Regions from separate parts of the Homo sapiens genome. Here regions 1, 3 and 4 are each linked to region 2. Evidence: fine-mapped expression QTL. A gene starts in region 2. Each other region holds a variant in brackets. All regions are shown on one strand. Distances are from middle to middle.

Region 1 (5,148 bases), 29 kb after region 2:
CCTTTTCCAGGAAAAGAACAATCCTAGCAGCAGAGAGTGATGGAAGGAGCTTTGGGCTGGGAGTCAGGAAGCCTCAGCTGTGGGAGTTGTGTGGCTTCCTTCTGTGTCTTGTTTCCTCCTCTGTAAAATAGGAGTGCTGGACTAGACGGCTCATGAGCTCTTCCCAGCTTTAGGGCTAGTGTGGGAATGTATTGTTATTATTCCTAGTTCCAGACAGAGGCTGACGTCTAGGGGCTTGGCTTTCAGCAGGTGTCACAGGCTGGGCAGTTTGGGATGGTGGAAGGAAAGGCTTAGGGGTGCCCCTAAAGGGCAGGGCCACAAGCACAGGCTTCACTAGAGTCTGTAGGACACAGCCCACGGGGTCACTCTTTAATAGCGTCTCATCAGTGGACCACCTGGGTTCAGAGCCTCTTTGGTCTTTGGTAGTGAGGCCATCTGGGTAGGGTCTAAGCCAAGCTTTCCATGGCTAGACTTTGTCTATGGCAAATTGATGCTGCCAACACTAATGTCAGTGGTCGGACTGCCACCTGTTGAGCTTGTTATTTCACTATCATGTTGAAGCCTCACAACATCCCTGTGAGGTAGCATTATCCTTGCATAAGAGAGAAAACAAAAAAGTGAAAAAAAAAAAAAACTAAACTAAACTAAACCAGCTCACTAAGGCTCAGAGAGGTTAAGCAACTTGCCCAAGGTCACATAGACAACGAATGTGGAAGCCATAACTCAAATTTAAGTGTATGAAACTCCACATCTCAATCCCACACTACACTCCCCTGCTCCAAAGGGGGTATTATTATTTTGAGACAGAGTCTGGCTCTGTCGTCCAGGCTGGAATGCAGTGGCACAATCCCAGCTCACTGCAATTTCAGCCTCCCGGGTTCAAGTGATTCTCCTGCCTCAGCTTCCCAAGTAGCTGGGATTACAGGCATGTGCCGCCACACCCGGCTAATTTTTGTATTTTTAGTAGAGATGGGGTTTCACCATGTTGGCCAGGCTGGTCTCAAACTCCTGACCTCAGGTGATCCATCGTCCTTGGCCTCCCAAAGTGCTCGGACTGCAGGTGTGAGCCACTGTGCCTGGCACCAAAGTGGGTTTTAAAGGTTTCCTGGCATGTGGCTTTCATCAAATCTGGAGTGGTACTTGCTCCCATAGCTGCAGGGGAGAGGGAGCTGTGGAGTGAAACTTTCCCGCTGCTGTCTGCAGAGCTGGGATAAGCCACAGGGAACTTGGTGAGGTTCTCAGGTCACCCTTCCTGAGCTCCTCCTGACCACCCTGATGAAGGCTGAGCAGAACAAAGTACACGCATTATCTAGGGGGACTTTGAGGCCAGAGAGGAGCTCAGTCCTGCCGGTGGCAAAGCTGTGGACTGCTGGGGAAAAGCACAGCCCGGCATGGGGATCCTGGCTCTGCCCTTCTACAACTCCAGATCAGTGGCCCAGAGCCTCAGGTGCACCTCTTTTGCTGGGCTATGGGGCGAGTGCAGGCAGAGGCCATCGTGGAAGCACCTGGCTCCTCTTGAGCACTTGAGCATGTGTGTGACGAAAATAGGAGACACACTTCTTAATCACCACGCTGTTTCCCTGCTATCTTGGTTAGGGGACAGGGGCATTGCAGTTGCTACATTACCATGACCTGCACTATCTGATGCTACTGTAGATCGTTGTTGTGACTAAATTTAAAAAAGAAAAGCAGCCAAGTTGAGGCTGTGGTTCTAGACCCCCAGCAGAATTGAGGGTGTGGACATAGGGAAGTGGAGCATGGGAGGCTGGAGTGTGGGTCTGGGGCCTGACAGCCTTACCTGTACTCCTTGGCTCCATAGTTACCAGTGGGCCCATCCTTGGGGACAATAATTTCACCTAGGTAAAGCCAGTCCCTAAAGCTAGGGCTTAAAAGGTGGACTTGTCCCAAGCCAGGAACTAGAGGTGGGTGGGTAGGACGGGACCAGCAGCATGGGCTGCCCTGGGCTGAGAACCTGGGCGGAGTGGGGCAGTTCAGAGGCTCAGGGACTGAGGCTGAGATGGGGCTGGGAGCCAGGAATCACTTTGAAGGACACTTGTTATTTAAATTACTCCTTCATTTCTCATCACCCATCTTAGGCTCATCTCACCACTTTGCACCACCAATTTGATCAGAGCAATGTCTTCATGACCCTAGCAAGGGTCCAGTTCTTACCTAATTAGGGGGAACTGGTAAATTAGCACTGATGAGGCCCAGAGAGGTATCAGTATGTGTCCAGGTCACACAGCAAAATTGGGACTTGAATTCAGAAGAAGAAACTCCTCCTCATAACCCTCTACTCCACACCCCCCTACTCCGGTTCTCAGGTGATTCCCCTTAAAACGTGTGCAATTGCATCTTTCCAGATAGGCCTCATCTGGGAGGGGCCCCTGAGGGTCTGGCCTCCCCTCTCCACACCTGTGGCTGGGCCGCTCCTGAAATCATTATCTGGCTCTTTCCAATGTTTCATCTGTTTTCTATTTCACATCACCCCTGCTACCTCCTTCTCACATTTGAGCTTGGGATCATGAAAAACAGATGTGCTGACCCTACCTGTCCTTACGCTTTGCCCAGGTTTGGGACTTAACAGGAAGTGATCTTCTTCAAATGTTCTTCCAGTCACTTGATTCCTTGGTCCCTTAGCCCTGCCTGTCCAGCTGGGCTTATCAAAGGATACTAAGGAAAGAAAACAACAGTTACCTGAGGAATGTGAGCCTTTTCAAATTATTAGGCACAGCACTGGGCGCAGCGGCTCACGCAGCAGGTGGATCACTTGATGTCAGGTGTTCGAGACCAGCCTGACCAATATGGTGAAACCCCGTCTCTACTAAAAATACAAAAATTAGCTGGGCGTGGTGGTGTGCGCCTGTAGTCCCAGCTTCTCAGAAGGCTGAGACAGTAGAATTGCCTGAACCCAGGAGGCAGAGGTTGCAGTGAGCTGAGATCGCGCCACTGCACTCCAGCCTGGGCCACAGAGCGAGACTCAGTCTCAAAAAAACCAAATTATTAGGCCCAGAGAGGCACTAAAATGAGACAGCAACCATGCCCTACTTCCCCTGTTCATCTGTTGAAACTGCTTGCTGTTGCCCCAGGTAACTATGAATTAACCTAAAAATG[C/T]CTCACTGGACGCTACGTCCCACACTCTGTAGCTTAATGTATAGCCAGTCGCTAATCAAGTTATTTCTGTAAACTAACGAGAATTCCTGATAACTTTGTATCAGTCCGCTCCCTGTTCTCTTATTTTTTTGCCTTTAAAAACCTGCCTGTAAGGTGAACTGGAGCTCATAACCAAGCTTCCTTGGGTCTGAGTCTTCCAGGCAGCTGTCCTCACTTTGGCTCAAGTAAACTTTTTGAAATCACATTTTGTGCTTTAGCTTCTTCCTTTTACGTTGACCTTGCTTCTGAGTCCAGCTCTCACCTTTTCAAAGTGTGCTTCTGTACATTGTGTATTCCTGGGCAGGCAGGAATTTGGCCGCCGGGGCTGAGAGACGCTGACCTACTTGCCCAAGGCCACACAGAAATTGTCAATGGTTTTGAAGGGGCAGGACTCTGGGGCCCCCTTCCTTTCTTGCTGGTCCACCAATATACACCCCAAACCTGCATTTTCTAACAGAACGGGCTGCAAGGCCCAAGCGCTTTTCTTTTTGTCACATGGTGGAAGTAGAATCTAGGAGTAAGGGAAGAGGCAGGAGGAAGCAGAGGCTGCCATGGCTGGTACTCAGCTTTGAACATATCATATCCTTCCTTGGGGGCCTTCAATGGCTCCCTGTTAACCATGAAAAACAGCCTAGCACCTCAGTTTTGTAAGGAAGGTCCTTGGGGAAACTGGCTGAAGCCACCTTCCCACCTGCCTCTCACTCCTCGCCCGTCTCCAGCAGTCGCGTGGGGTGCTTTACCTTCCTTGGACCCCTGCCGGAGTTGCACTGCCTCTTCCGGGCTTTTGGAAGACTTTTTCCTCCCAATCTAGATCAATGGTTCTCCAGCCAACCAAGGGTTCTGCACAGAGAACCCCTTGATTCTGCTTCTATTGCCTTGGGCTGGAGCCTGGGCATCAGCATCTTGACCTGTGACACTTGGTAGCCGATAAACAGATAAATGATGAAAACAGACCCACCTCCCACAGGCTCACAGTCTACCTTAGATTGAGCCTCCCCGGGGTAGTAGAGAGTTTTAAAAGCTTGATTTTGCATCTCATTTAAATATTACCCCATATCGAAATATCTCATAGGCCACATACATATATATACCTGCTATGTACCCATGAACATGTTTTTTAAAAGTCAAAAAAATATATATCCCTCTGTCCCTGTGAAAGCTGGTGTGGGTGTTTTCCAGAGCTGGGGAGACCCCTTGCCCCACACCAGGTCTGGGGCTGGAAAGAACCCCAGGGGACCACAGGAGAGCCTCCCCAGGGCTCTCACCAGTGCACTCCCCACCCTGCATGGATCCTGATCACTGCTTCCCTGTCACGCCCCCACCAGGCTGCAAACTCTTCCAGAGCAAAGGGCTCCATCTTTTACCTCTACCTTTTAGCACCAAGCACAGTGCTTGACACTCAAATAGCACTCAATAATAAATGTTGCCCGAACTCATCAAAAATATGGTCCAGTCTCAGCACTCTGTCTGAGGCAAGACAAGATTCAAGGACGGCAAGTAACTGACAGTGTCCCCAAAGGTGTTGGTGGCAGAGCTGGGCCTAGACCCCAGCTCCTGGATTTCCAGGATGTGCTCCACACTCCCGCAACCTCTTCTGCCTTCCTTCTCCCACCTGCCTGGACCCTAATCCAGGAATCAGACAACCAGCACTGCCTTCCCATTCCCAAGAGACAGTAGGACTCCCTGAGTTTTGCTGAGGTCCTAGGGGACCCCAAAGCCCTTCAAAATCAATGCGGGCCACTCTCCTTAGCCAATCCCAAGGAATCAACCCTAAAGTACTAAAGCTATTCCCATGAGCCCAGCTCCGCCCATGCCTTCATTAAAGGGGCGGCACTGGCCCTTTCCACCTCCAGAGGCTCCAGAACAGTGGTTCTCAATGTGTGGGCTGCAAACTAGCAATAGTGGAACCACCTGGGAGCATGTTTGAAATGAAAATTCTCCAGGTCTAGCCCATACTTACTGATTCAGAAACTCTGGGGATGAGGCCCAGCAGTC
Region 2 (5,148 bases):
CTCGCTGGTGAGAAATCAAAGCCGGGTATTAGAGGCCATTTCTGACTGGGCACCATTCGTGCCCAAATCCATCAAAGCCCTGGGCCTGGGGTTTCTTCTGGGGAAGGTGGGGGCTGGATGCTTTGTTAAGCAGGAAATGCAGGCCACCCCCAGCCTTCTTGGCCAAGCCCACCCACCCAGAGAACTATAGGCCAACCAGTCTTGTCTTTCTCCTACAGCAGCCCCTCATTCCTGGTAACCTAAGTATTTATTCCTGATCCCACTGTCCTGCTGGTACAAAAGCAGCTTCCCAAGACACAACCCTGCCCATGTGCCATTTACAGAGACTTCACCCTACCCTTCAATCATCTCCTCAAACCCCCTCCAACCAGAAACCAGCACCCCAACCAAGCACCTCCCACGTCTAACTGCACCCTTTAAAACAAGGTTGGACATTCAGCAGCCTGCCTTCCCCATCCCCATCATTACCTTCCAACTTCAAAACACTGCTTTAAATACCAGAGTCTGCCCAAATCATAATTAACTTGGATCAAATGGTTGAGTGTTGTAACTCTACTGCACAGGACTTGCACCAGAAAAAAAAAAAAAAGTGGGGAATGTGCTAAAGCCAAGCCCTCACTCCTGGCCGTGGGAATCACTAATTCCAGAATGAGGAATCTTTGGCTATGGAGGGGGGAAGGGCGGATGTCAACTTCGCAGCAGGAGGTAGGAGGTGGGGAGGGCTGCGTCATCTCGTCCACTTTCTGCTCCAGTTTTCCTGCTCCATTCTCAGCCTCAACTCAGAGAGGACTCCGTGCAGGAGGCCCCGTCCCCACCTGGCTCCGGAGCCGAGCCGCCCGGCAGCCGTGGCCAGCCCACTTGCTTGGGTTCGGGTACCAGAGAGAGGCTGGCTCCATTCAGTCCACAGCCTCCCCGAGAAGACGCAGCCCAGCCAGCGACGCCGGGTCCAGCTACAGGACGAGCGAGAAACGTATTCATCCACGGCGAGAGAGGAGGGTTAGGGACTTTATTTCGGAGCCCACCAGTTCGCTGAAGTCATCTTGGTGGGTCCAGAGCGGGCGCTGTACCAAGGAGAGCGCACCTAGTCTGTTCCCCGGACAGCGAGAATGTCAGTGACCAATTTAAAAGGAAACTCCGCAGGATCGCTAAGAACCCCTACCCGCATCCAACACACACACACACACACACACACACACACACACTCTCCAACACTCAGAAAATTAATAATAATAATAATAATAATAATAATAATAATTCTTCCAGACCTGCGGGCCCAGCGATCTCGGGGAAAGCTATGTGTGCAAGACTTAGCCCTCCCCGCTTCAGGAGCCCTGCAAGCCGGCCTGCCGAGGCTACCGAAGCGCTTCCTGTGTTCAGCAGGTCTTTTCGCTCTCTCCCTCTAGTCTGCAGATTGCTGTCCCTATAGCGCGTAAGAGCCTAGGCGAGCCGGGACCAGACTAGTAAGTTACCGGCGTACGGCAGCGAGCGCACACCTTGCTTATGTAGCCAATGTTCTTTTTCGGGGCGGATGCCAGGCGCGCGGAGAGCCGGGCGTCCCCAGGAGGCGGATCCTCCCGGAGACTCAGACCCTGACTCCTACACCCCTTCCAGGGAGAAGAAGGGATCCCTTTCAGGAGCGAGCAGGGACCTTTCAGCTTACTGTGAAGCCCCTTCCCTGCTCCCCGCTCCCGCGATGTGGATGCGCCATTGCCCACTTTGGGAGGCAGTAAAATCTACATTCTAACTTGGGCGCCCTTGCCGCTTTTCCTGCGCGCATCGATGCGACGAAAGACCACCTCAACTTCAGGACAGAGTGAGGCGCAAGGGTCCCCTAGCCCCGCGCCCCCAGACCCGATCGCTTCCTACCTGCTTGGCTCAGCCTCGGGTCCCAGCAGAGCAGCAGTGCCAGCAGCAGCGCGCCCCGAGCTCCGCTCCGGGCCCCCATGCTCCCGCGGCCTGGTTCGGGCGCCTCTCCCCCAGGGCTGTCTCCCTGGCCCCAGTCTCGCCGCCGCCGTCTCCGCCGCCGCCGCCTCCTCCTCGCCGTCCTCCCCGGCGCCCGGCAGCGCCAGCCCGTGCCTTCCGTGGGGGCAGCGGAAGCCACGCTGCGCGGAGGGCCGCCTGGCACTCGGAGCGCGGTGGGTGCCTGGCGCCGGCTCTCGAACGAGGCTCCGGCGCGCCCCTCTGGCTCCGGGTCTCTGAGCGCTCGCCTGGCTCCGGCGCTGTGCCTCCGAAGTTGCGCGACCGCTCAGTGGCGCTCGCAGCGGCGGCGCCGCGCAGTCCCAGCCCCAGTGCGCGCCTCTCGGAGCCCCGCGGCTGCGTGCGGCTCCGGCGCCCTAGCCGGCCCCAGCCGCCTGCCACAATGCCGAGCGCCGCCGCTCGCTCGCCGGAGTGAGTTCGCCAACCGAGGGGACCGCGCGCGGCCGGGGCGGGGCCTGGGCGACCGAGGGCGGAGCCGACAGGGGGACCTTGAGGGGGGATCCGACGGCCATCTGGGCGCGGCCGCGGCAGAGCTGGGGGACCCGGGGGGAGGGTCCTCGCGAGACGCTGGGCGCAGCGTTTTGAAAAACCCGGCCGCTGGAGAATGGCTGGACGTGGAGGCGGCCCAATTTTCGCTCCCCCAAATTAAGGAAATCTGGCTTTGCGCCTTCATTTGGCTTGGCCATGTCAGCTTTCTCCTCTGATTAAACATAGGACTCTCACTTTTGGCTCCCCTGTCTGTAGTATGCGCTCTGCCTTCCACATGTGGGGGTCTTTCCAAAAAAAAGGCTCCCAAAATGAGAACACCCAAGTCCTGGTTACGCGGGGGCTTACAGCGATATGAAGCTGGGTATAGATTAGGATCATCCTGGCTGGCTCTGCTTGTCTGTATGATCTCCGGCAGAACTGTTAACCAGACCCCTGGAAACCCCTCCAGCACTCTGATCCTGCGTTGTTGTAAACTAGCCTCCTACCTGACAGTGGGACAGCCATTTTTGGCTCAGTGTAAACTTGGACTCTGCCCCTTATTTACTGTGTGACCTTGAACAAGTTACTTAACAATTCTATTGCTCCCTTCATCATCATCTGTAAAATGGAGGAAAAGGATAACTATTTCATAAGGGGGTATAGAATTAAATTTTAAAACTTGTGTGGAAATTGCAGTGCAAGTGTCAATAATCTCTTTCCAAGATTCTCCCCTCCCAGCCAGTCTGATTCCAGGGGGAAAGTCCTGACCACCCAAAGGTGGTCCAAGGAGCACGTGGGGACAGGTGAGGTTTGAAGGATGGGCAGTGTCTTGGGATTGAAACCCAGAGAGATCAGAACGAGCGGATCAGCTAACATAGGCAAAGACCTTCCCTGTGCCAGGCACAGGGCTAAGCACTCTGTATGCATCATGTCAGTTAATTCTCACAACCCTCTGAAGTAAGCACCATTTACATCCCATTTTACAGATGAAGGACCTGAGGCACAGAGGTGTAAAGCCACCTGCCGGAGATCACACTGCTTGGAGTGACTGAGTGACTGAGCAAAGGGGATGGGGGAGATGGGATTGGAAAGAAACCCTCTAAACGGGGGAGCCTCACTTGAACACCTTCCCTGGGGCTGGATTGGGCTGTGCGAAGGGGACTGTCCTAGCTGTTTCCCCAGAGGTGAGGTGAAGGCAGGACTAGTACCCTCTCCACACACACTCCCCTCACAAGCCGGGGTCTTGGAGTATCTAGGGGAGGTCGTGCATGCCATCAGCACATCTCCCTAACCCTCTCTGACTGGGCACCCAGCATCAGGAGGGTGGCAACAGGTGGACTGGGACTCCCTGGGGGAAGAACTTCCATCAATTGAGAAAGGCTGCTGTGGGCAAAGGTAGGTTGCTTAGCTTGGCCTCTGACAGCCCTAGCAAGGGCAGTGGATGAGACAGTCAACAGCTCAGCACACCCAAACCAACTCCACCTTGCAAATACACATGCACACACACAACTACCCACCCATACACACCTGCAAAGGTACACACACGAAAACATACAACAAAGACAACAGGTGCAATGTTTCACCTCCCATAAACATCACACCTACAAATAGGCACCCGACTCCAGAGACACCCACATACCAAAGATGTATGCCTAAAAAAAGCAAACACACAGGCGCACACAACTAAAAACACAAATAGGCAGATGACTCCCAAGACAAATAGATATTTGGATACTTAACTACTGCCAGGAAACACATACAGGCACGCCTGTGCCAAGACCCACATCTGACGGTCATCCCCTGGATGCAGGCACATGGTCAAGGTTGTGCCTGTGCTGGAGAGCTCAGCAGGGACCTCAGCAGAGACGGGCAGCATGCAGAGACCACAGCATGTTCTCTCTCTCTCCCCAACCTCTTTCTCTCTCTCCTTCAGGCCAGTGGGGTATTGGAGATTTTTCTAAAAAGTTCCACCCCTTGGAACTTTGCTGTTTAGGTGGTAAAGTGTACCCAGCAGGCCCTTCTAGTCCAAGTATCAGGTTTCACGGCTTTAATTCCTGGGTGGAGAGAAGGGGGACTGGAGATGGGGGCAAGCAAAAGGAAGACATTACCCCCTCTCCTGCCAGTCCCTGCCCCACTTCCCTTCTCAGCCTAACCACTCTCTCAACTCTTGAAATATACTCTTGGGAGGTCCCGGGCCCTGCTCTCCCTCCAGGACTCCAGCATCAGGGCATGGGATTTTGCATGTTGGGAATCTCTCTGTAACTGCTCTGTGCCCCTGCTCCTGTACCAAGTCTCTGAGCCTTCTCTAGCCACCTGCAGCTGAGCAGTTGCAGATGTGGTTCCTCTCCAGCCCTGGCATCTCAAGAGTGCAGGCTGTCAGTTGAGGCCAGGCAAGGGGCTTCAGAGGGAGTCAGACTCCCCCTGAGCCATACCTTTCCCCGGGATGGGTGAAGAATGGGCAGGGTCCCTGCCTGGGGGATGACACATTAGGATAGCAGGATTAAGATTTGCCAGGGTGTTCCCAAACCGAGTGCCATGGGCCTCACAGCAAAGGCATCCTGCTGGGAGTTAAGCATGAGGACGAAGCAGTGAGTTGCTTGAAGTCAGGTGCCCTGTGTTCCCTGTTCCCCATGATATATCTAGCACTGAAGACAGTTTCTGGCATAGCAGGGATGCAATCAACCTTGGTTGAGTGGGTACATC
Region 3 (5,110 bases), 37 kb before region 2:
ATGCAGAGACACAAAAGGGAGCCACCCTCACAGCCTGGTGCTCTATCACGCTTCCTGCTGCTCAGGCCCAAAGTTAGCCCATTTGATAGATGGCAAAACAGGCCCAGAGAGGGCAAGAGATCAGCCTAGAGTCACTGTGAATGATCAACTATATAGGGACTAGACCTGGAAAAATAAAATTCAAGATTCAGATACCACTGAAGAGCATGTTAACTGTCCCTTCACCCATTTTTAAAGCACAGGCATTTGGGAAAATATTGTAATATATATATGTGACACTTATTTTTAACCCAGATTTCAAATCACTTTTTTGTTGGAGGAGGTGAAGGGGAACATTACACAGCACTTCATTTACTTACAAAGATGTCACACCTGGTACACTTAAAGAGGCAAAGTCCTAGAAAAGCAAGGTCAATTTGAGAGGAAATAAAATCAATGACTTGAGGTATACATCTCCAGCCTGTGGGTTTTTTTCCTGGGGGAAAACAACTTAAAGAAAAATAAATATCCTCAATTCTTCCCTGTGTGTGCTTCAGCCTGTGGCACTGAGACTCTCACAGGAGAGGAATTATCTTGGTTCATTCATTCCCCTATGTGGCAAGGGTTTCAGATATGGACCGAGAAGACCCCTTCTGGGTCTTTGCAGGAACCATGTATACTCTGCAACTTTAATCACTTTGTCTGCAGGCATGAGCGAAACGATCTCCAGAGACAGCCAGCATTTAAAAGCAAATTTATTAAAGTAGACACCACCTTCCTGACACAATGGCACATGATGGATTCTTATTTCCCATTGTGGAGCAAATGGAAAATCGCTCTTGCAGATGGGGAGATAAACTGTGCTCTGGGGCCTGCAAGTCTGAAGTCCAGGGTGGCTGCCAGAAGAAAATCCAATTTGCCTTTAAATGCCATGTACAGCGTTTCTATTGTACCTACCACCTACTATATCAAAAGGTGAAAGTTTAAAAGTTTAAAAACCGCATGAAGACATACAAAGACTACAGCTGTAGGAACCAGTCTCAGAAAGACACATCATCAGTTTGTCTATCCAGGCTTTGAAGATTCTACCTTCCTTACCCTGACCTCTGACAGGGAAACTCCTTTGGAAGGAGTGAGGATTCTCTAACCATCCAAGCAAGCAGCGGGGTAACCTCTGACAGATTACCCACTCTGAGTCCTAGTTTCCATATCAATATATTTGGAAGACTGAAATAAAACAGGGATAGCAATACCTTGGTACAACTACTACCATGGCTGAGCCCATGACAGACATCACTAATTGACCCAACTGAGCCAGATCTGAGTCTCTGAATCAGCACATCTCCTGAAAGTCATCACTGTTTGTTCAGGATTGGTAGCAAGAGGAGACCTACTTGCCATCCCTGAACTCAGTGATCTCTAGAATTCCTTCCACCTCTAGCATGCTGTAAGTATTCCCCTCTTCAGTGTCTACTATGTATCTAGATCTATATTAGAATCTGTAGGAGACAGAAGTATACTCCCATAGATTATAAATTAGAAAAGTTATAATCTCTACCCCAAAGTGCTGGGAGCTAGGAGGGGGATAACCCTTCAGGAAACCACTGCAGCGCAGCAACAATACTTTAGAATTTAGCCCTGGATCTGTTTTGGCATGTGCCCAGCCTGAGAGCCACCACCTCCCCATCCCACACCACAGCAGACATCACTAATTAATGCTGACTTCTGTAAATGAGTCCAGATGTGGCCCTAGATTTCTCAACACTACACCCTGGGAAGTCACCCTCAAACTTTCAAAACAGCCACCTGAGATAAACCGTTTGCCACTGCTGCCCTAGATTTTGAGGTACAGGCTATACAGGTCTGGGGAGGTTGGAGCTATCAGGAAAAGATTCCTCGGAAAGTCAGGAATTAAGCTGGGACTTGAGGAAGCATCCACACACCCAAGCCAGGCCAGACAGATGAAGAAGAGAGGCCAAGGCTGGGAGAGGGGCAATGATGGGGACTTCCAGAAGGGGCCTAGCTCATGCAACCCGGTAGGAAGTATCCCATTTGGACCCAGCAGAACGGCCGGAGGCTCGGGGTCATCCCTAGGGCCGGGGGGAAAGGAGTTCTGATGTCTCCCCCACCGGCACTGCCCCTTCATTCAAGGCATCCTGGGGAGCAGGGCCTGGGGCACCACCTGGTAAGAGGCCTTCAGCAGGCAGGTGGCTCAGGCCCAGCGGGGTTTGCCATGGGCTCCCAGCACCTCTGCCCTGCTCAAGAGTGGTGAGATGCCTGGTGTCATGGCAGTCTCCTGAAGAGGCACAGAGATGGGCACCTGTGGCCACACACTTTCCACTTAGCTCCTCTGGGCTGTTCTCCTGAGCCTAAACATATGCTTGGGGAGAGGAACCACGTCCCCACCCCATCCCAACCAGAACCACAGCCTGAGCACTGGAGTGGGAAGAGGGAAATCTGGGCTCCAAAAGCCCTCATGGCACTGGGATACGTGGCCAGTGCCCCTAAGAGGGACCTTTCCAGAAGATTCTCTAAGTAACCTATCTGTTCCATGCCCTAACCTCCTGCAGCCTTGGTTTTTCCTTCTGTATAATGGACTACCCCACCAATCAGATATCTGCACTGCCCACTGCATTACCTGCCTTCTACCTGCTCTGTGCTTTGTGGCTGTGGGAGAGAGATGAGGGTGGTAGGAGGAGCCAGGGACCATGCCAGGGGACTCTCCTGGAGTTAGAAATGACAGCTGGAAAGCCACATTCTCAGAGATGGCTCTGGATCCCAAGGGCCTCACCTGTATAGCATGGTCTCGGCACAGAGGTGCAAGGTGCGTTCCACAGAACCAGGGGCCCAACCCAGCTTAACAAGCTTGGAATATACACTCACACATAGGGTTATCACTCTCTGTCACTTTTGTCCCCACCCCCTGGGGAGCCCTCAATCCTTGCAAGCTGGTGCTGGGGCAGCTGGGCCAAGTTTTGAGGGGCAGCCAGGAATTGGCAATCCCAAATGGGGTCCCTTTGGCAGCCTAGCTATGTCAGGGCAATAGCTTAGGCCATGCCAGGTTACTGGTGCCCAGGCTGCAGGCTCTGGAGGG[G/C]AGCATGCCTGAGAAGCCCAGGAGGACTTTGTAGCTGGTGCCAGCCCACAGCATGTGAGCACACTGGAGCTGTGGCCGTGGTCACGTTCTCATGAGTGCGTTCAACCCTGGGGTGAGGTGCCTGTGTAGGGCTGTGCAAAAAGGGACTGAAAGCTTGGACACAGAATGGGACATCTGAATGTCATGCTGGGGCCCAGTAGCCTCTTTGCCAGAGGGAGCTATGTTTGGGATCACCTGGCCAACAGATGCAAATACAAGCATATGTGTACATACTGCCCACAGGAAGGAGTGGGGTGCAGGTGGGAGTGGAGATGGCTGGTCTGACATGGTGTGTGTTTTACATCTATGAGTGTGTGTGTGTGTGTGTGTGTGTGTGTGTGAGAGAGAGAGAGAGAGAGACAGAGAGAGGGAGGAGCCTGTACCCACTGCTTCAGTGTGCCTGCCTGTAAGTGGGTGCATGTCAATGTTCTCTATGAGTTCAGGCATCCTCTGCTGTGTACCCCTGAGCATGTACACAGGTCTGTGTAAAAGTGCATGCCTAGGAGCCACTTTGAAAACAAAGACCTTGGGCTGCAAAGAAAAATGATGAGATTCTTAAGAACGGTGAGTGCAGCAGATATTAGCCGGTCTACTGGGGGTTGTTACACTAACCGTGTGTCCATTCTGCCTAATACATAAATTACTAATGTAAATTAAAGGATAATTGAAGCCCTTTAGGCCCAAATATTTAAATTATTCAACAGGCTGTCAGGAATAGGAGAAAAAGGAAGAGCTGAGTTTAACACTCAAAGAGAAAAGTGCCAACTCAGGGGAAGAAGGGGAAAGTGGGCCCCCCTTCTCCCTGCCTCCCGCTAGCTCATTCTGCTCTGGAGGTGCGGGGGGCTTTTCTCCAGGGCGCTGTGTGTATTGCCTCCCTCCTGGCCGTATAGGCTCCCAGGGCGTCCCTGCTTGGGAAAGTGCTGCCAAGGCCAGAGGCAAGGCTGCCTACCTGAGAGGTGGAAGCAAGTGGGGGGAGCTCAACTCCTCTTCTGCTCCTCAGAGACAGGACCCAGGGAGGCCCCAAGACTGCTATCAAAGAGCTGAGAGCTGGTACCAGGGACCTGGGTGCTTGGATGGTTCCCAGGGTGAAACCAGTATCTCCTTCCCTGAGATACCACAAGCCTGGAAAGGCAGTGCTAGAAGTCAGAGGCTTTGGCAAAGGGGAGAGAGAAGGGGGCAATTGAGTCCACTCCTACCCATTATACAGAGTAGGAAAGTAAAGGCCACATAGGAGGAGGTGAATCAGCAGCTTGCCAAAGGCAGATGCGGCATTCCCATCCTTTCTCCTTTTCCCTGAGGCCTTGAGAGGGTTTTCCAGGTCTCAAGGACACAAGTAAGACCCCCAAATCACTAGGGAGCCTTACTTCACTTGGGTCCTACATCCCAGGGCAAAGCAAAAAAGGAAGCATGTCTTCCCTTAGCCCCCGGTCTGATTTCTATAGAACTCACTGCCTGGTTTCTCTTTGTTCTATGGCACAGAACTCCCAACCATGCAAAGGTCCCAGTGTGGGTGCTGTGGCTCGCTCACATCCATGCTGGGGCCTGGGGACTGGGGGTGTACAGCTGAGGAAGGCCCAGACTCAGACTCCTGAAACAGTCCAACTCAGCTGGGGCCAGGGTGCCAGGTTAAAGTGCAGAGGGTCAGGTCTGGGAGCTCAGAAGGTGAGGCCTCCAGCTGACTGCAACGTCTGGGAGCCTGTCCAACAGCGAGGCCTCAGTGGGCAAGAAAGAAACAAGCCAGGCCTGCTGAATCACCTCTCCTCTCCGCATGTTAGCCAGGTAGGGGCAGGGGTGGAGGGGACTGCTGCAAGGCTGGGTAGATGGAACAGTGCCTTCCCTACAGCCATGGCCCTCTCTGTACACCCAGTGCCAATGGCACCTGCTCCAGGGAGCCTTCCCTGATGTTCTGGATGTTCACTCTGCAGCCCAAGATGCTGTCACCTCTGAGTGACCTCTCTGTTCTGACTCCATAGGCACCTTCAGGGCAGGGATAGGCCT
Region 4 (5,148 bases), 23 kb before region 2:
CCTTAAGGTGAGCATCAAATATTTCTTGAGACAGAATAAAGGACTTACAAAGTCCTAGTAAAGACCACTTCTGCTCCCAGTAAAACTACCTCCTTCCCGATCCTATAGAGGCCACAGGCTGGAGATGGAGGCAGGAGGCTTCCAATACGGACTTCACCGCACCTCCTTCACACTAGGTGCTGCAGGAACACCTTGCATAATAATAGTTAATGCACTCAGGATTGCCAGCTTTGTGCTGAGGACTTCCCGTGTATTTACTTATTGACGTCTCACTGCTCTTACCCCCACTTTACAGATGAGAGAACTGAGGTCTTAAGAGGTGACCCCAAGGGCACATGGTCAGTAAGAGGCAGAGCCGAGTTTCAGACCCAGGCTAACCAACTCCAAAAATGCCCAAGCACTGAGTGAGACGGCTCTCTCTCTAAAATCTCATTTAAACCTCATGGAGACGTTATGGGGTAGATTGCTATTAATTCCACTTTGTGGTTGAAGACGAGGCTCACATGGGCTAAACTGTCCAGGAACACGTGGTTTGGAAGCAGGGAGGGTAGTATTTGAACCCATGCTGTTGCCAGAGCTTTTCCACATAAACACGAGTCTTGGTGACCAGGCAAACAGGGGTCATTAGGGAACGTGCACTTGGTCCCCAGAGTGGGCCTCTGCTCACAGGCTCTGTGGCCTTTGCTATTCCACACCCAGCCTGGGATCCTAGCTACCCTCCGCCCAGGCAGGCCTGTTTGCCCACCACCTGTGCTTCCTGCCTCTTCTCCAAACCTCTGAATACCCTGGAGCCCCCATCTACACCTCCACCTCCTCCAGGAAGCCTTCCACATCCCAGCCGTGGAGCTCACTCCTCTGAGCTGGAGAAAATGTGGGCGTTCTCTTCAGGGGCATGCATCTTCTCTCATTCCTAAGTGGAATTTTGTGAGCTCCTTGGGGGTAGGTTCTGGGTCCCCTTGGAGCGAGGCACAGAGAAGGGAATGATAAATATGGGGGTTCACTGCTCTCAGGACCAGGGTCCCTCTGGCCTCTTGAGGGCTTCACTGGACCTCCCCATCCATTCTCCCAGAGGAGAAGCAGAGCAGACTTCCTTTGCACAGAGAGGAAACCAAGGCACAGCTAATGGCAAGAGCCAGGGAGTCTCCAGTGGGGGCTCGGGCAGGGAAGCCCAGCACCCATGAATGAGGAGGCCACTGCCGGTCAGTGTGGGGCGGGAGGGCCCTGGGTCCCAGCTCTGAGGAGCTCTGAGAAACGCTTTACGACTTTCTAAATGGGCCTCTGCTGACAGCTTAACAGCCAGCTCCTCCCTGCCCCGGCTTCATATTTACGAGCTGGCTCTGAAGGGGGGCTCAGGAATCCGGCCCACACCACCCGATCCTCAGCCCTCTGGCTCCAGGGCCAGGAAGCCATAAAAAATGATCTTGCATTGCTTCCCTTCCCCCACATGTTTTAGGTGAGGCAGGGCGGGCATGGCAAGGGATGCTGGGGGCAGGGAAGGTGTAGGGTCTTTCTCTAAGGCTACACAAGCACATTCTCACAGAGGGGAACTCAACTGCCCAGGCTTTGCCCAGTCCTGAGGTCCCTAGTCTGAGCTGTCAAGGGCTGGACATACTCATACTTATGGGGCACCTACTGTAAGCCAAGGTGTCACCTTCAATATCTCATTGAATCTTACAACAACCCTGAGGAGTTTGACAAAGTTTGGAAAGGTCTTTGGACTCAGATCTCCACTGTTCCCTCCTGCCCCGACCAGAAGGCCCCTTCAGTTTACAGTTGACGAGTGAGACCCAGAGATGGAAAGGAACTTGCCTAACGTCACACAGCGTATTAGTGGCAGAGTGTGGACCTGAACTAGGGCTCCCAGCTCCCAGGGCAGTAGGACCCATGCTGCAGGCTCCTGACATGCCAGTGGGCGAGGTGGGGATGATCCCTTTGCCTTCCACATGGGTCCCTCTGTCTATAGATGGCCCAGATGCGACCAGGTGCTCTCTAGGGCTCTCAGCGGCTTGGGCACTCTAAGGCTGGAATTCCACAATGGTGCCTGGTCTGAAGCCCAGTTGGTGGGGAGCTGCCCTTCCTTTTCAGGTTGAGGCCAAGAGGCCACACCAGCCCTGGCCATTCTCTAAGCTCAGTCCTCAGGGCTGGAGGCTGGGCTCCGGGAACCCCCTAGGACCCCCCTACCAGTCCCTAAGTGTCCTCCCACCGTCTGGCCTGGGAAGGGCCAATGTCTCCCACAGGATGTGGCCGTCTGGCTGGCTGAAGCCTCTACCACATCCCCTCTGGGTGCTCTCCAGGCCCAAGGCTGAGGAACGCTGACCACGGAAGGAACCCCACCCTCTGTCCCCATCCCAGCCCACGCTGGC[A/G]CAACCTCCAGTCCACATACCCTCTTCTTCCCGCTGAAGTGGGTCAGTCCCACCCAGGGAAACCAGTCCTCAGCTCTCTGCTGAGTTCAGGGCTCTGGCTACAGTGGGGGCTCAGCAAATGACCATCAAGCCCCCAGAGGGGTTCAGAAGGGCTGGTGGCTGCAGGCCTGTTAGTCCCACCCCTCCTGTCTTTCTCTGTGGTCTGGGCCCCTTCCCTGGTGGCTCCCCTAGCGAGGGGCTGTCTGCAGATAATCAGGGAACAGATTTGGAAAGAAGGAGGAAAAAAAGCACTCCGGCGCCAGACAGGATCCTTATCTTCTGGGGCGGGATGTCTGTCAGAGGCAGAGGCAGAGGCAGAGGCAGAGTCAGAGGCAGCGGCAGCGAGTCCTGCAATAGGGGCCCGGCATTGCAGCCAGGCCGGGGGAGGAGGGGCCCCCCTGGGCGCTGGGGGTGGGAAGGGCTGGCCTCTCCTTCTGGGCCAGGAGACCAGTGGGAATCTATCTGGCCTGCTGGGGAGGGGATCTGGATGCCAAATCCTGTCCCCTCAACCCAGCTTTTAGGATGAGTCTCCCTGATGTGTTCAGAATGACCCTGGGACCTCTGCAAATAGAGCAGAGGAAGAGAGGCCCAGGTTTCCAAGTCTCCCAAGTTCCTAACAAGGCAGCAGGGCCCCCAGACCCAGCAGCCTGGAACTGGCTGGGGAACTGTCTTAGCCACAAGACTCTGGCCAAGTATTCTAGCTGCATCTAGGTGCTCTCACCTGTAGAATGGGGATGAAACCCCACACGCCTCTTGCACTGAGCTATTAGGCTTCTCCCCAGGGATTCCATCTAGAAAGTGCCTTGCAAAGGGAAGGTGTGTTCTGCCTGGGGCTTTGAGCTTCCCACCCCAGGGGCTCCCTGCTGGTTCTCACACAGCTTGACAGACCAAAGGAAGGTCATACAAGGGGCTTTGCTTCTTATGCTGGTCCCCAGAATACTTTTCAGTGAAACCCCACAACATGGTGAAGGTCCTTTTCATAGAGCAGAGAGCAGGTTTTCCGATGGGGTACTGTTTCCCCAGGGCAGTCCATAAACCTTGGGACCAAGAAGCTTCGATTCCCTGGCTTGGACTTCTCTGGGCCAGGCCTGAATCTCAAGAATGAAGCCTCATCTCCGTGAGGGCCCCAGCAAAAGCCCCTGGAGGGGGCGGTGTCAAGTGCGGGCCAAGGGCACAGGCCCTAATCAGGCTCCAAATCCAGGCTCTTTTGCTGCTTCCTGGCTGTGTGACCCTGGGCAAGTGTCCTTATCTCCGCCCCCCACCCCCGAGGTTAATTTCCTCATCTATAAAATGAGGAAGATATCTCTTCAGTGCTAACATTTTGTAACTTCACACTTGACCTAACCGGCTCTGCCCCTGAGAAACTTGAACCGTAAAAAGAAGGGAGCCATATAACACATATAACTGTACTTGCACACTCATCAGGCAGAGAAGCATCAAATCAAGTGTGCCTGTGTGGCCTGGAGCACCCTGGGACCAGGTTCCTTTGTGGACCCTGTTTCTAATCTCCTGGCGGCCTCAGCCAAGAGCAGTTAGAGTGGGCTGGCCTCCTGCAGGAGTTGGACCAGTTCATCTCCCAGGGATGGGCTGCAGGAGGAAATGCCAGCAAGGGTCCTGACAAAGAAGGAAAGGCTTCTGTCTGGTGCTGGGGATTAAAGGCACACTCCCCTGTGCCCCACCTCCAGTTCCCTGTGCCCCACCCCAGCCCCACCAGAACCTGGCTGGCCTGTCTCCCAGCTGCCATCTGTAGGGGTTGGTCCTCATTAACTGCTGTGGCAGCTGAGGGGCTGGGAGAGGGAGATGCAGGCTGCAGAGCTAGAAACTAAAGCCAGGCTGGGACGGTGGCCACCTCTGGAGCTAGAGTGATGGACCGTGGAGTGGGGAGGCAGAGGGAAGGGGGAGACAAGGGAGTATAGGGACGGGTGACAGGCTTGGCCAGTGGGAGAGGCAAAGGTGAGAGCTGGCTGAAGCCGCCAGCATCTTCCGGGCTGTTATTCTGGGCAACATTTTATTTATTCAGAGGCTAGGGATGCGGCTCAGCATTGGTTGGCTCAATATTTATTACAAGTGCATTGACCTTGTACTGTGGACCCCGTGATGGGGCCACCTCAGGACCCCGGGATGGGGCCACCTCAGGATCCTCATCTCCTCGGTGCTAGGACACACTTGAAAACCTGCAACGAAAAGCCGAGGGGTCCTACCTTCCTGGAAGACCACCCAGTCCAACTCTTGCTTTACCTTTGGGAAAATTGAGGTCTGAGGCAGAAACAACCTTGCTCAAGGTCACAGGGCACACTGGTCCTTGATCCCTGTTCTCTTGGCATTTAGGCCATCAGAATGGACAAGTGCTGTGGAAGTAGAAATACTGCAGACCACATTCAGAGGGACAGCGACCTGCCCACAAGTCCCCCATCAGGTGCAGACACAGCTGGCAGAAATCCTGGAGTAAGGTCGCAGCTTTGTGTACAAGGCACTCAAGCTCCCTGAGCTTTGGTTTCTTCCTCTCCACGAGCAAGGTAATCATGCCCATCTCACAGAGTGGTTGGGAGGACTGCATGAGAACACCCTGGAAACTGTCAAGCCCCATCCTACTGGAATTGGTTTATTCACTGACATGCTGCATGGCAGGCTGTGCTGGGAAGTGAGGCAGCATGGCCATGGGGGACTGGCATCCATCCATGGCCCCTAAACCCCTTCCTTATCACAGCTACCAAGGCTAGGCAGGCGGCAACTAATAAATCGGCAG

What was found. PIP is the estimated chance that this variant, and not a neighbour inherited with it, causes the effect.
Region 1: its variant is fine-mapped to the expression of UNC5B in whole blood (INTERVAL, PIP 0.95).
Region 3: its variant is fine-mapped to the expression of UNC5B in tibial artery (GTEx, PIP above 0.99).
Region 4: its variant is fine-mapped to the expression of UNC5B in whole blood (INTERVAL, PIP above 0.99). The same link has a PIP of 0.9 or more in T cells, blood mononuclear cells and monocytes.

Annotation. Positions count from the first base shown.
Region 1 is chr10:71,180,787-71,185,934 of GRCh38, reverse strand. No RefSeq gene overlaps it. Among named protein-coding and RNA genes, the nearest start is that of UNC5B, 29 kb to the left of the region's middle. The variant C/T (reference allele first, on the strand shown) is at 3,115.
Region 2 is chr10:71,209,783-71,214,930 of GRCh38, reverse strand. UNC5B (unc-5 netrin receptor B) reads right to left here and starts at 2,361. Exons shown (of 17, transcript NM_170744.5): 1 at 1,867-2,361. The coding sequence starts at 1,945. RefSeq lists a silencer at 2,201-2,460 and an enhancer at 2,305-2,599.
Region 3 is chr10:71,247,211-71,252,320 of GRCh38, reverse strand. The region is part of intron 1 of UNC5B (unc-5 netrin receptor B); the gene reads right to left. It overlaps LOC112268061 (a long non-coding RNA gene), which reads right to left. Exons shown (of 2, transcript XR_002957083.2): 2 at 1-4,234. Among named protein-coding and RNA genes, the nearest start is that of UNC5B-AS1, 32 kb to the right of the region's middle. RefSeq lists an enhancer at 4,729-5,110. The variant G/C (reference allele first, on the strand shown) is at 3,074.
Region 4 is chr10:71,232,672-71,237,819 of GRCh38, reverse strand. The region is part of intron 1 of UNC5B (unc-5 netrin receptor B); the gene reads right to left. It overlaps LOC112268061 (a long non-coding RNA gene), which reads right to left. Exons shown (of 2, transcript XR_002957083.2): 1 at 1-5,148. Among named protein-coding and RNA genes, the nearest start is that of UNC5B-AS1, 17 kb to the right of the region's middle. RefSeq lists enhancers at 252-998, 999-1,746, 1,755-2,506, 4,015-4,768, 4,814-5,148. The variant A/G (reference allele first, on the strand shown) is at 2,364.